Linked DNA regions of Homo sapiens. The protein of the gene in region 3 purifies or fractionates together with the protein of the main gene of each other region. This does not show direct contact. Each region holds a gene or a part of one and is shown on either strand. Other genes may lie near its edges.

Region 1 (3,751 bases), on a different chromosome or scaffold from region 3:
CAGGGAGTCGGAGCTGTCTTCTTGCGCTCAGTCAGTTCCTGGGTTGGGGGGCCACAAGATCAGATGGGCCAGTTTATTGATCTGGGTAAGGCCAGCTGATCCATCAAGTGCAGGGTCTGTGAAATATCTCAAGCACTGATCTTAGGAGCAGTTTAGGGAGGGTCAGAATCTTGTACCCTCCAGCTGCATGACTCCTAAACCATAATTTCTAATCTTGTGGCTAATGTTAGTCCTACAAAGGCAATCCAGTCGCCAGACAAGAAGGAGGTCTGCTTTGGGAAAGGGCTGTTACCATGTTTGTTTAAACTATAAACTACAAACTAAATCTCTCCCAAAGTTAGTTCAGCCTTTGCCCAGGAATGAACAAGGATAGCTTGGAGGTTAGAAGCAAGATGGAGTAAGTTAACTTAGATCTCTTTCGCTGTGTCAGTCATAATTTTGCAAAGGCGGTTTCAGTGGTTCTCTGACCCAGCCAATGATGCTAAATTCCCTTATTTTATGTCCCACGTAGCACAACACAGATCACCTTTTTTTTTTTTGGAGACGGAGTCTTGCTCCGTCACCCAGGCTGGAGTACAGTGTTACGATCTCGGCTCACTGCAAGCTCCGCCTTCCGGGTTCACGCCATTCTCCTGCCTCAGCCTCCTGAGTAGCTGGGACCACAGGCGCCCAGCCACCACGCCCGGCTAATTTTTTTGTATTTTTAGTAGAGATGGGGTTTCACCGTGTTAGCCAGGATGGTCTCCATCTTCTGACCTCGTGATCTGCCCACCTCGGCCTCCCAAAGTGCTGGGATTACAGGCGTGAGCCACCGCGCCCGGCAAGATCACCTTTTTAAAGTAGTTTATATTTTGGGTGTTTACTAAGCCCTTTATTTCTATTTATTATTTTTTGAGACAGTCTTGCTGTGTCGCCCAGGCTGGAGTGCAATGGCACAATCTAGGCTCACTGCAGCCTCCACCTACCAGGTTCAAGCGATTCCCCTGCCTCAGCCTCCCAAGTAGCTGGGATTACAGGTGTGCGCCACCACACCCAGCTAATTTTTGTATTTTTAGTACAGACCGGGTTTCACTATGTTGGCCAGGCTGGTCTCGAACTCCTGGCCTCATGTGATCCGCCCGCCTCGGCCTCCCAAAGTGCTGGTATTACAGGTGTGAGCCACCGCGCCGGACCTTACTATGCCCTTTAGATCTGAGCTCGGGCGGCCCCCTCTAGGCAGCCCTGCTGGCCTCAGGTCCCTGGGTCAGCCAGTTCCTCTGAGCTCCGGGGCTCCCACTTTCCCGACCACTCTGGGTTGACAGTGATGGATCAGGAGTATATCTCCCAGTGCTGAGCAAAAAGGCCGCATAGTCTGTCAACCGAATGAAAGGACGGCGTATGAGCGCATTAATGAGTACACAGATGAATGTCCTCTCTGGCTCAAAGTCCTTTTCCGGATTCCCAGGCCATGTCTCCAGAACCCAGACTTCACCCCCGAACCATGCCCCTAATCCAGACTTATTGACTACAGTAAAACTGAGGCACGTCGACGTCCTAAACGGAGGATATACAAGCACCTCCTAGATCAGTGGGGAAACTGAGGCACACGGTGCCGCTTTTGAAATGAAGTTGCCCAAGGACAGCCGGGCAAAGGACCCCGTCCGGTTTCTCCTCAGCCCCTCCCCTAGCTCCTCTATCCTGGAAAGCCCCGTCCAAATTTCTCCCATCTCTCACACTATTGGTTTAACAGGGCATCAGTCTCCAAGCGCTCTCTTCCTTTATCGGCTGGCATTTCCTACTCGCGTGGTGGCTCCTTGACCCGCCCCTTACGCCCCGCCCCGCCCTCACTACTGGGCCACCCGTACGCCCCTCTATCAGAAACCCCCCACTATTGGCCACTGGACTTTGCCGGTTCGGGCTGTGATTGGTCGTAGACAGAAGTCCATCCCCTAAGCAACCACCTGACAGGGGTTGGAGAAAGGAAAAAGGTTGGAGGGAATTCGGGTCAGACTCACGTTGAGCCGGCGGGAGGCAGATATAGGTCTTGAAGAACTCGCTTCGGCGGGCGGCCTCCTTAATACGGTTGGCAAGCGGCTTGCTGACCTGCCGGATGCCCAAGTATAGCAGCTTCGCCATAGGGAACGCGCCCACCACCATCTTGGCGGTCTCACAGGGCACGCGCAACCTTGCTGACTGGGCGGGGCGCCTCAACCTCTTCACTCCTCCCCCGCCCTCTCGTGGCCATGCGTGCGTCAGTACGTATGTACGTACGCTCGAGGGAAACTTCAGAGGCGCATCCTGACGTCACCCCGTCGACGCTGGCGTAGCGACGTCCGTTCGCTGAATATGCAAATATACACGGAAGTGAGGCGGGTCAGGGGGCGGTGCCGTTAAACGGATGCTGGAAGGCGTGTGGATTCCCACGCCCGCCTTGGCCAACGTCACTGTACTCCTTCGTGATGTCACGTTCCGAGTTGGCGTCCCCACCCAAAGGAGGCTCTTAATTAGTCCTAATTAGTCCTATGAGCCCCAAATACACCTTCCTCTGCAAGCTAGGGCTCTCATTGGGATTAAGAGGAAGCCGCGCGGTCATACAGACTTTGGCTGGGATCCCAGCTCTGCCATTTCCTCGCTGTGTAATATTAGATGAGTGGCATAACCTCTCTGGACTTCAGTATTACCGTCTACCAAATGGGAATCCTAATAGCAGTTGCCTCTTTGGGTTGTTGTGAGGCTTCTATGCTAATCTTGAGTGTAAAACAGTGGACCATGGGAAGTGGTTAGAATGGTGCCATTCATATAGTTAAGCGCTCAGTAAATAGCCCTTCTTACTATACAGGTCATGATTGCATTATTAATGCTAAATCCAGCCTGAGGGTGCATTTCACCCCCAGAAGCAGCGAATCCAACCCTTTCCCAAGTAACTGACAAGGAAACTGAGGCCCAGAGCAGGGCAGGGGGTGGCACAAGGTTCCTGCAGAGGTTGATAGCCTGGCATCTTGGCCAATAAAACCATACCCGTTCTCAAGCAACCCAACTTCCTTCATTAGGAGGTAGGTTCCCCAGGGAGCTAGTTCAGAAATAAATTTAAGGACATGTCCCAGACTGTCCTTTCTTACCCAGCAGGGAGTAAAATCATATAAACAATGTCAGGAAGGGGTTGAGAGAAATTCCTGGATGATGGAGTGCTGATGGGTAATTGAGAGATTCTCGGAGGCAGAGGGACAGAAGAAAACAGGAACAGAGGACTGGCCGCCATGGCTCACGCCTGTAATCCCAGCACTTTGGGAGGCTGAGGAGGGTGGATCACCTGAGGTCAGGAGTTTGAGACCAACCTGGCTAACATCGTGAAATCCCATCTCCACTAAAAAAAAAAAAAAATTTAGCCGGGCATGGTGGCGGGCACCTGTAATCCCAGGTACTCTGGAGGCTGAGGCAGGAGAATCGCTTGAACCTGGGAGGTAGAGGTTGCAGTGAGCCGAGATCACGCCGCTGCACTCCAGTCTTGGCGACAGAGCGAGACTCCGTCTCAAAAAAAAAAAAAAAAAAAAAAGGAAAACAGGAACAGAGGAGTGGTGTGTAGGAGGAAACATACATTCAGGACACAGAATCAGGGGGCTCTGGACTTCTTTGGTATCCAGTCTGACTCTCTGAGTGTCCTTTGTCAAGCTCCTGGCACTGAGGGACCTGCGTTTCCTCATCTTTACTGATGGTGCTGGTGTGTGTGTGAACCCTGATATTCTGAATTACTAAGAATGCCAGGATTCCATAA
Region 2 (3,651 bases), on a different chromosome or scaffold from region 3:
TGTAAATTAAGTGTTGTAGTTGTTGGCATATTAGCTGCCTACGTCTCTGTTGGAAATCAACAAGGCAGAAGAGCATGCCAGGGAAAAAGCCTGGGGAGAGGAGCAGACTGTGGCTAGTGAAGAGCAGATAGAAGCAGAGAGAACTAGGAGTAGCAGAAACGAATGAGAAGGGCAGGGATAGAGCCACCCCCACCCGCCCTTTGCAAGGTGTGCTCCAGGTGTGTGGCACGTGGCAAAGAGTCCTCACATTTACACTGCCCTTGAGAAATGCATTCTAAAAGCAGATGGAGTTTGTGCTGAATGTGTTCCAAGGCGCCCCCCCCGGCCCCCCTGCTTTAATCCCCTCTCACCTTGTCCCACACCTCCTCAGTGACATCCATTATGCTTCCAAAGAAAGGGTTGACAGCAGCATTGGAGACTAGGATATCGATACCTCCATGAAGCTTCACAGCCTAGAGAGAGGGGTAAGTTCTGGACCAGGGCTGCAGTAAGTAAGGGAGGTGCATTTACCCATGTTGATAAAAACTTCCTTCTGGGCAAGGAGCTGTGGCTCATGCCTGTAATCATGGCACTTTGGGAGGCCAAGGTGGGAGGCTCACTTGAGCTGAGGAGTTTGAGAGAAGCCTGGGCCATGCAGCGAGACCTTATCTTTATATTAAAAACAACAACAACAATGACAACAAAATCTTCCTACTTAGGAACTATCGTCAAAATAACTTCTATTTCTTAAAACATCTTTTTTGAAAACTACCCTAAGATCTGCCGCTAACCATTTAAGGTTGGCTTCTTTCTTTTTTAGACGGAGTCTTGCTCTGTCATCCAGACTGGAGCACAGTGGCATGTTCTCAGCTCACTGCAGCCTTGACCTACTGGGTTCAAGCCATCCTCTTGGCTCAGCCCCCCAAGTAGTTGGGACTACAAGTGCGTGCCACCACACCCGGGCAATTTTTGTATTTTTTATAGAGACAGGGTCTTGCCATGTTGCCCAGGCTGGTCTGGAACTCCTGGGCTCAAGCCATCCACCTGCCTCAGTATCCTAAAGTGTTACAGGCGCGACCCACCAGGAAGTTGGCCCTATTTCTTTTGCAGTGTTTTCTTCCCACCTCCTATTCTTCCAAGGCTGTCTCTGACGCTCTTTTCTTTACACTTCCCCTTTGGGAAGCTCCTTCATTCTCATGATTTCAAGTCTCACCCCAAAATCTATTTCCAGACCCCTCCTCTTCCTTTCACACTGAGTTCCACCCACATTTCTCCAAGTGCTTACTGTCCAGTTCTCCTTGAATAAGTTACCATTATCTCAAAGTCAATCTGTCCACACTTACCTGAATGGAAAAACTGGCTTAAATAGAGCTGTAGAAAGTTACCCTGGAGGGGCCTTTGAGATCATCTATTCCAGTGTCCTTAAGGTGGAGATGATGAAATAGGTTCAGAGAATTTTCTCAAGATCTTATAGTTCAGTAGTGGCACACTGGGGCTAGGTAAGAACAGGAGGCCTGCTTATTCTGTGTTTGGGAGGGGTGAAGTGATGTTTTCAGGGCACAAAGCTAGTTAGTGGTGGAAGAACTGAGGTCAGTCTCCCACTTTGTAGCACAGAGCTAATTCATAAGAGCCCTCTGAAAGTGAGTTGGGGTCATCAGGAAACTGGTTGCCCAGGAGAGCCGTGATGGGAGAAGATACCAGCCTGAATTTAAAGCAATTCCATATTTGGTTATGATGTCATTTTCCCTGTCTCTGTCTCTCTCTTTTGACCTGGAGGCATGAAAGATTCAAGGCAGAAACTGAAATTTAAATTGAGAAGGCGAAGAAAGGCAACATCTCACCTCCTTAATAAGTTATAAGTAGATAGTGAGGCCTGTGCTAGAGTAATGAATGGCCAAGCAGAATCTGCCAACAAGGGTTTTCAGTACAAAGCCACCCTGAAACCAGACTTTCCGTTTGCCCGGAACTGGCAATTTTGATGCCTTGGGCAAGTTGCAGTACACGGGCCCTCGGTCAACTTTGTGCTCCGGATTTGGCACACAGAGGGGTGTTACTAACAATGTACACCATCTGCTAGCTTCCCGTTTTAACTAATTATTCTTGTTAACTAGGTGCTAAGCTCAGTTGTTTCTAGACAGTTGAAGGAATGCTGGGCTGTCAATGTGTAAATCTAACAAAATTTACAGTCACATAATCTTTTAAAACCAGTATTAATACTTTCTTGCACCCTTTAAATTTTGGTATCCTGGCACAAAGCCAAGTCACCTGCCTTGGCTCTGTGTAAGTCTCACCAATGGACTTGTTACTAGGGAGGTGCAGAGTAAGTTAATAAGTGATGTGCGCCGTGCTCAGTACACATGTGTTTGGGCTGGGAGGAGACAATGGATTGCTCTAGAATCACCTGGAGACATTTTCTACTCTGCTGTATACCCCATACTCCTCTCCTTCCAGGTCTGTCAGCACAGAGATGGGAGGAGGCTGGGTTTTGATTGAACAGAGACAGCAAACCATAAAAGATGAATGAGGCTGGGTGTGGTGGCTCACACCTATAATCCTAGCACTTTGGTAGGCCCAGTGGGGAGGACCACTTGAGGCCAGGAGTTCAAAACAGCCTGGGAAATACAGCCCCAACTCTACAAAAAATTTAAAAAATGAACTGGTGTGGTGGTGCATGCCTATAGTTTTAGCCACTTGGGAGGCTGAGGTGGGAGGATTGCTTGAGTTCAGGACTTCGAGGTTACAGTGAGCTATGATCATGTCACTGCACTGCAGCCTGGGCAACAGAAGGAGGCCCTGTCTCTGGAAAAAAAAAAAAAAGGAAAGTCTTCTAAGTCTTATTCTAAATTGTGTGATCACTACACCAAAGCGGTTAGGAGCTGTTTGTTCTGTGTTCTGATAGTTATACATTTTTAAGAAAAAATATAATCAAGGAGATAGGCAGCTACTCTGGTTTCCACTTACAACACCAGTGAGAAGCTTCGTGGTGTCCAGATGAGGAGGCCACTGGGTAGTATCCATTCTCAGGAAAGTGGCTTTTCTCATTGCAGGGTAACATGTGGCAACTGGCAGAAGACATTTCAAATTGCTGACAAGTATTCTATCATTCTCCTCTCTGACAATGGTCATACAAACTACTTGAGAGTCATTTTTGACTTCTCTATTTCCCACTTTTTGACATGGGGTTGGAAAATCTTGGTTCGTTTCCACTGAATGTCTCTTGGGCACATCTATTCCAGTCCCACCGCCACTGCTCTAAACCTGGAGGACAGCAACAGCTTCCTCACTGATGCCCTGGATTCGGTGTCTCCTCTGTATATCCTTCCTACCAGAGCCAGATTAGCTTTCCTAATAACCATCTTTCTCTTGCTCAAAACCTCACATGGCTTCTTATTTGCTACAAGGGTGTGTAAACATATCCTTTTAAGAGGCCATATCCTTTTAAGGTCCTTAACGTATCCTTTTAAGAAGCTATGGCCGGGCACAGTGGCTCACGCCTGTAATCCCAGCACATTGGGAGGCCGAGGGGGTGGATCACCTGAGGTCAGGAGTTCAAGACCAGCCTGGCCAACATGGTGAAACCCTGTCTCTACCAAAAATACAAAAATTAGCTGGACGTGGTGGTGGATGCCTGTAATCCTAGCTGCTCGGGAGGCTGAGGCATGAGAATTGCTT
Region 3 (3,651 bases):
TAAAGAACTAGCATATGTTAGGAATACAGTTATATCTATTATCTAGACAGTAGCTTTTAAAAAGTAGGAGGTGGGCCAAGCATGGTCGCCCACACCTGGAATGCCAGCATTTTGGGTAGCCGAAGCAGGTGGGTCACTTGAGGTCAGGAGTTCGAGATCAGAACTCAATCTAGCCAACATGGTGAAACCTCATCTCTGCTAAAAATACAAAAATTAGCTGGGCATGGTGGCGTGCCTGTAGTCGCAGCTACTCGGGAGGCTGAGGCAGGAGAATCGCTTGAACCTGGGAGGTGGAGGTTGCAGTGAGCTGAGATCACACCATGGCACTCCATCCTGGGCTACAGAGCAAGACTCAAAAAACAAACAAACAAAAAACACAAAAAAAGTAGTAGGAGTTGGGTGGTAAGAAATCTGTTAAGAATCAGTTTTGTTACGTATTTTTGTTGAAATTTTACCCTCTTAACTATCACTCCAAGACTTAAGTTTGACACAGAAAGCTTTTGTTGAAATTTTACCCTCTTAACTATCACTCCAAGACTTAGGTTTGACACAGAAAGCTAGACCTTAATGTACAACAGTTTCTATTTATAAAAGTAATCAAATGAACAATAATAAACAGTGATAAGCATAAACTAATAAAAGTTATATGAATGTAGTTCCTCACTCAAAATATCTTAATATTTTCAGATGTCAGTTGACCTTGGATAACTGAAGCCACAGAAAATGAACTCTTGGATAAGGGAGAGCTACTGTATTTCTTTTTTTTTTTTTGAGATGGAGTCTTGCTCTGCTGCCCAGGCTGGAGTGTAGTGGTGCCATCGTGGCTCACTGCAACCTCCACCTCCCTCCCTCAGGCTCAAGCGATTGTTCTGTCTCACCCTCACCCTCCCGAGTAGCTGGGATTACAGGTGCACGCCACCATGCCCGTCCAATTTTTTGTATTTTAGTAGAGATGGGGTTTCACTGTGTTGCCCAGGCTGGTCTTGAACTCCTGAGCTCAGGTAATCCACCTGCCTCAGCCTCCCAAAGTGCTGGGATTACAGATGTGAGCCACCGTGCCTGGCAGGAATTACTGTAGTTACCTTTTGTGTAGTTGCTGAAATTTATTATGGAACCCAAACAAAAATAATCATGAGATTAAATTTTTATGTTAGCTGTTTGGTGCATTTAATTTTTTTTTTCTTGTTTTAAATAAAGGTGGACCCCCAAAAGTACAAGGGCATATTTAACGGATTCTCAGTTACACTTAAAGAGGATGGTGTTCGTGGTTTGGCTAAAGGATGGGCTCCGACTTTCCTTGGCTACTCCATGCAGGGACTCTGCAAGTTTGGCTTTTATGAAGTCTTTAAAGTCTTGTATAGCAATATGCTTGGAGAGGTATGTAATTAACTTTAAAATTGAATGTTCCGAGTGTTTAAGACTTTCCGAGTGTTCTTAGATTTTTGTCTGTCTTGCCTTATTTTAGCACTGAAGAAAATGGTCCTACAAAGTGAGCAACTTGTTTTAAATCGTATGCCTGTGTCAGCAGAGACAGGTTGATAAATGTATTTCATTAAATTACAATTCTCCTTTTAATATACTATCTTGTTTTCTAAGTAAGTTGGATTTTGAGTTTTTTAGAGAAGGGCTCTGGGACTCCTTTGCGTAGTTCCGGGGCATGGCATCTAGATATTTTTTGAATATTCATGTTGTTCACATAGTTACGTGTTTTGTTAATGAGGTTATGAGACCACATATATATTCCATATCATCGTGTGTTACTTTATAAAATGTCTGAAGCTTAGTTGTTTTCTAGAACTGTCACTTCAATTGAAAACCAACACAACAGCAATTCACATCCCTTCCTTGTGTTTTGGATTTTAGGAGAATACTTATCTCTGGCGCACATCACTATATTTGGCTGCCTCTGCCAGTGCTGAATTCTTTGCTGACATTGCCCTGGCTCCTATGGAAGCTGCTAAGGTTCGAATTCAAACCCAGCCAGGTTATGCCAACACTTTGAGGGATGCAGCTCCCAAAATGTATAAGGAAGAAGGCCTAAAAGCGTAAGTAAACACTTAAAAATTTATACTATGAAAGTACTTATTTTAAGTGAACTTCATTTTTTTTTGTTTTTTTTTTTGTTTTGTTTTTTTGAGACAAAGTCTCGCTCTGTCACCCAGGCTGGAGTGCAGTGGCGTGATCTCGGCTCACTGCAAGCTCCGCCTCCCGGGTTCACGCCATTCTCCTGCCTCAGCCTCCCAAGTAGCTGGGACTACAGGCGCCTGCCACTGCGCCCAGCTAATTTTTTGTATTTTTCAGTATAGACGGAGTTTCACCGTCTCCATCTCCTGACCTCATGATCCGCCCACCTTGGCCTCCCAAAATGCTGGGATTACAGGTGTGAGCCACCGCACCCGGCTTCTTTTTTTTTTTTCTTTGAGACGGAGTTTTGCTCTTGTTGTCCAGGCTGGAGTGCAATGGCACTATCTCAGCTCACTGCAACCTCCGCCTCCCAGGTTCAAGTGATTGTCCTGCCTCAGCCTGCTGAATAGCTGGGATTACAGGCATGCACCACCACGCCTGGCTAATTTTGTATTTTTAGTAGAGACTCCATGTTGGTCAGGCTGGTCTCGAACTCCTGACCTCAGGTGATCCACCCGCCTCGGCCTCCCAAAGTGCTGGGATTACAGGCGTGAGACACCGCGTCTGGCTGTGAACTTCATTTTTTAGTATTAAGCCTACCAGACTTTTTAAAAAGACTATTATAACATTTAATGTCTATTTACCTGTATGTAGAACATAAACTTGAGAGGTAAAGATAAGTTAATACATGGTTTGAGCCCTGGACTGAGTTTTTTTTTTTTCCCTAGAGTAAGGACCATTTGTCGGTCTACAAATGACTTGATGTTTGGCCTAAACATTTACTATTAACTTTTAGGGAGGGCTTGTTAGTATCCTTGTGATCTATTCACAGTTAAGAATTTCCATGACCACAACATGCTTCCTTAGATCCACCTTTGTGGATGAATCTTGAACTGAGTTCCACTTGTAAACTTCTTGTTTCTTGTGGTTCCAGTAGTCAAAGAAACATCCAGCAACTTTTTTGGTTGTATAGTCAAAGGTGCTTGAGTCATTGGCATGTAAGAGAAATATACCTGCATGTTAGTCTAACGTTCTGATAGAAATGACATGCATTTATGCTGCCATTTGTTACTATCAGGACTCGACTCGTGTGCGGACATTTCTGTTAATAATGACAGTCTCTGATAGATGAGTGTATGCAACTGTGTAAAACAAGTCTCTTGATTTCCTAGATTCTACAAGGGGGTTGCTCCTCTCTGGATGAGACAGATACCATACACCATGATGAAGTTCGCCTGCTTTGAACGTACTGTTGAAGCACTGTACAAGTTTGTGGTTCCTAAGCCCCGCAGTGAATGTTCAAAGCCAGAGCAGCTGGTTGTAACATTTGTAGCAGGTTACATAGGTACGAATTACTTAGAACACACTTGTCTGAAATTATGAACAAATAATCATTTCCATTATTGGCGTTTTTTGAGAGGGAAAAATACTCCAAAGGTTATAAAGCAGTGTTTTTGTTTTTTTGGTTTCCCTGAGGCATAGTCTCGCTCTGTTGCCCAGGCTGGAGTGCAGTGGCATGATAATAGC

What was found.
Region 1: the proteins of SLC25A3 (region 3) and OPA3 purify together in Homo sapiens (co-immunoprecipitation; one large-scale study listed by IntAct). This does not show direct contact.
Region 2: the proteins of SLC25A3 (region 3) and DHRS4 purify together in Homo sapiens (affinity purification with mass spectrometry; one large-scale study listed by BioGRID and IntAct). This does not show direct contact.

Annotation. Positions count from the first base shown.
Region 1 is NC_000019.10:45,582,629-45,586,379, forward strand, and holds the start of OPA3 (optic atrophy 3 protein), read right to left. Parts: upstream 2,175-3,751; 5' UTR 2,137-2,174; coding exon 1,995-2,136; intron 1-1,994. UniProt on the Homo sapiens protein: May play some role in mitochondrial processes.
Region 2 is NC_000014.9:23,956,703-23,960,353, reverse strand, and holds part of DHRS4 (dehydrogenase/reductase SDR family member 4), read right to left. Parts: intron 453-3,651; coding exon 351-452; intron 1-350. UniProt on the Homo sapiens protein: NADPH-dependent oxidoreductase which catalyzes the reduction of a variety of compounds bearing carbonyl groups including ketosteroids, alpha-dicarbonyl compounds, aldehydes, aromatic ketones and quinones.
Region 3 is NC_000012.12:98,596,659-98,600,309, forward strand, and holds part of SLC25A3 (solute carrier family 25 member 3 isoform b precursor), read left to right. Parts: intron 1-1,197; coding exon 1,198-1,377; intron 1,378-1,863; coding exon 1,864-2,045; intron 2,046-2,976; exon of another isoform or gene 2,977-3,226; intron 3,227-3,296; coding exon 3,297-3,469; intron 3,470-3,651. UniProt on the Homo sapiens protein: Inorganic ion transporter that transports phosphate or copper ions across the mitochondrial inner membrane into the matrix compartment. Mediates proton-coupled symport of phosphate ions necessary for mitochondrial oxidative phosphorylation of ADP to ATP.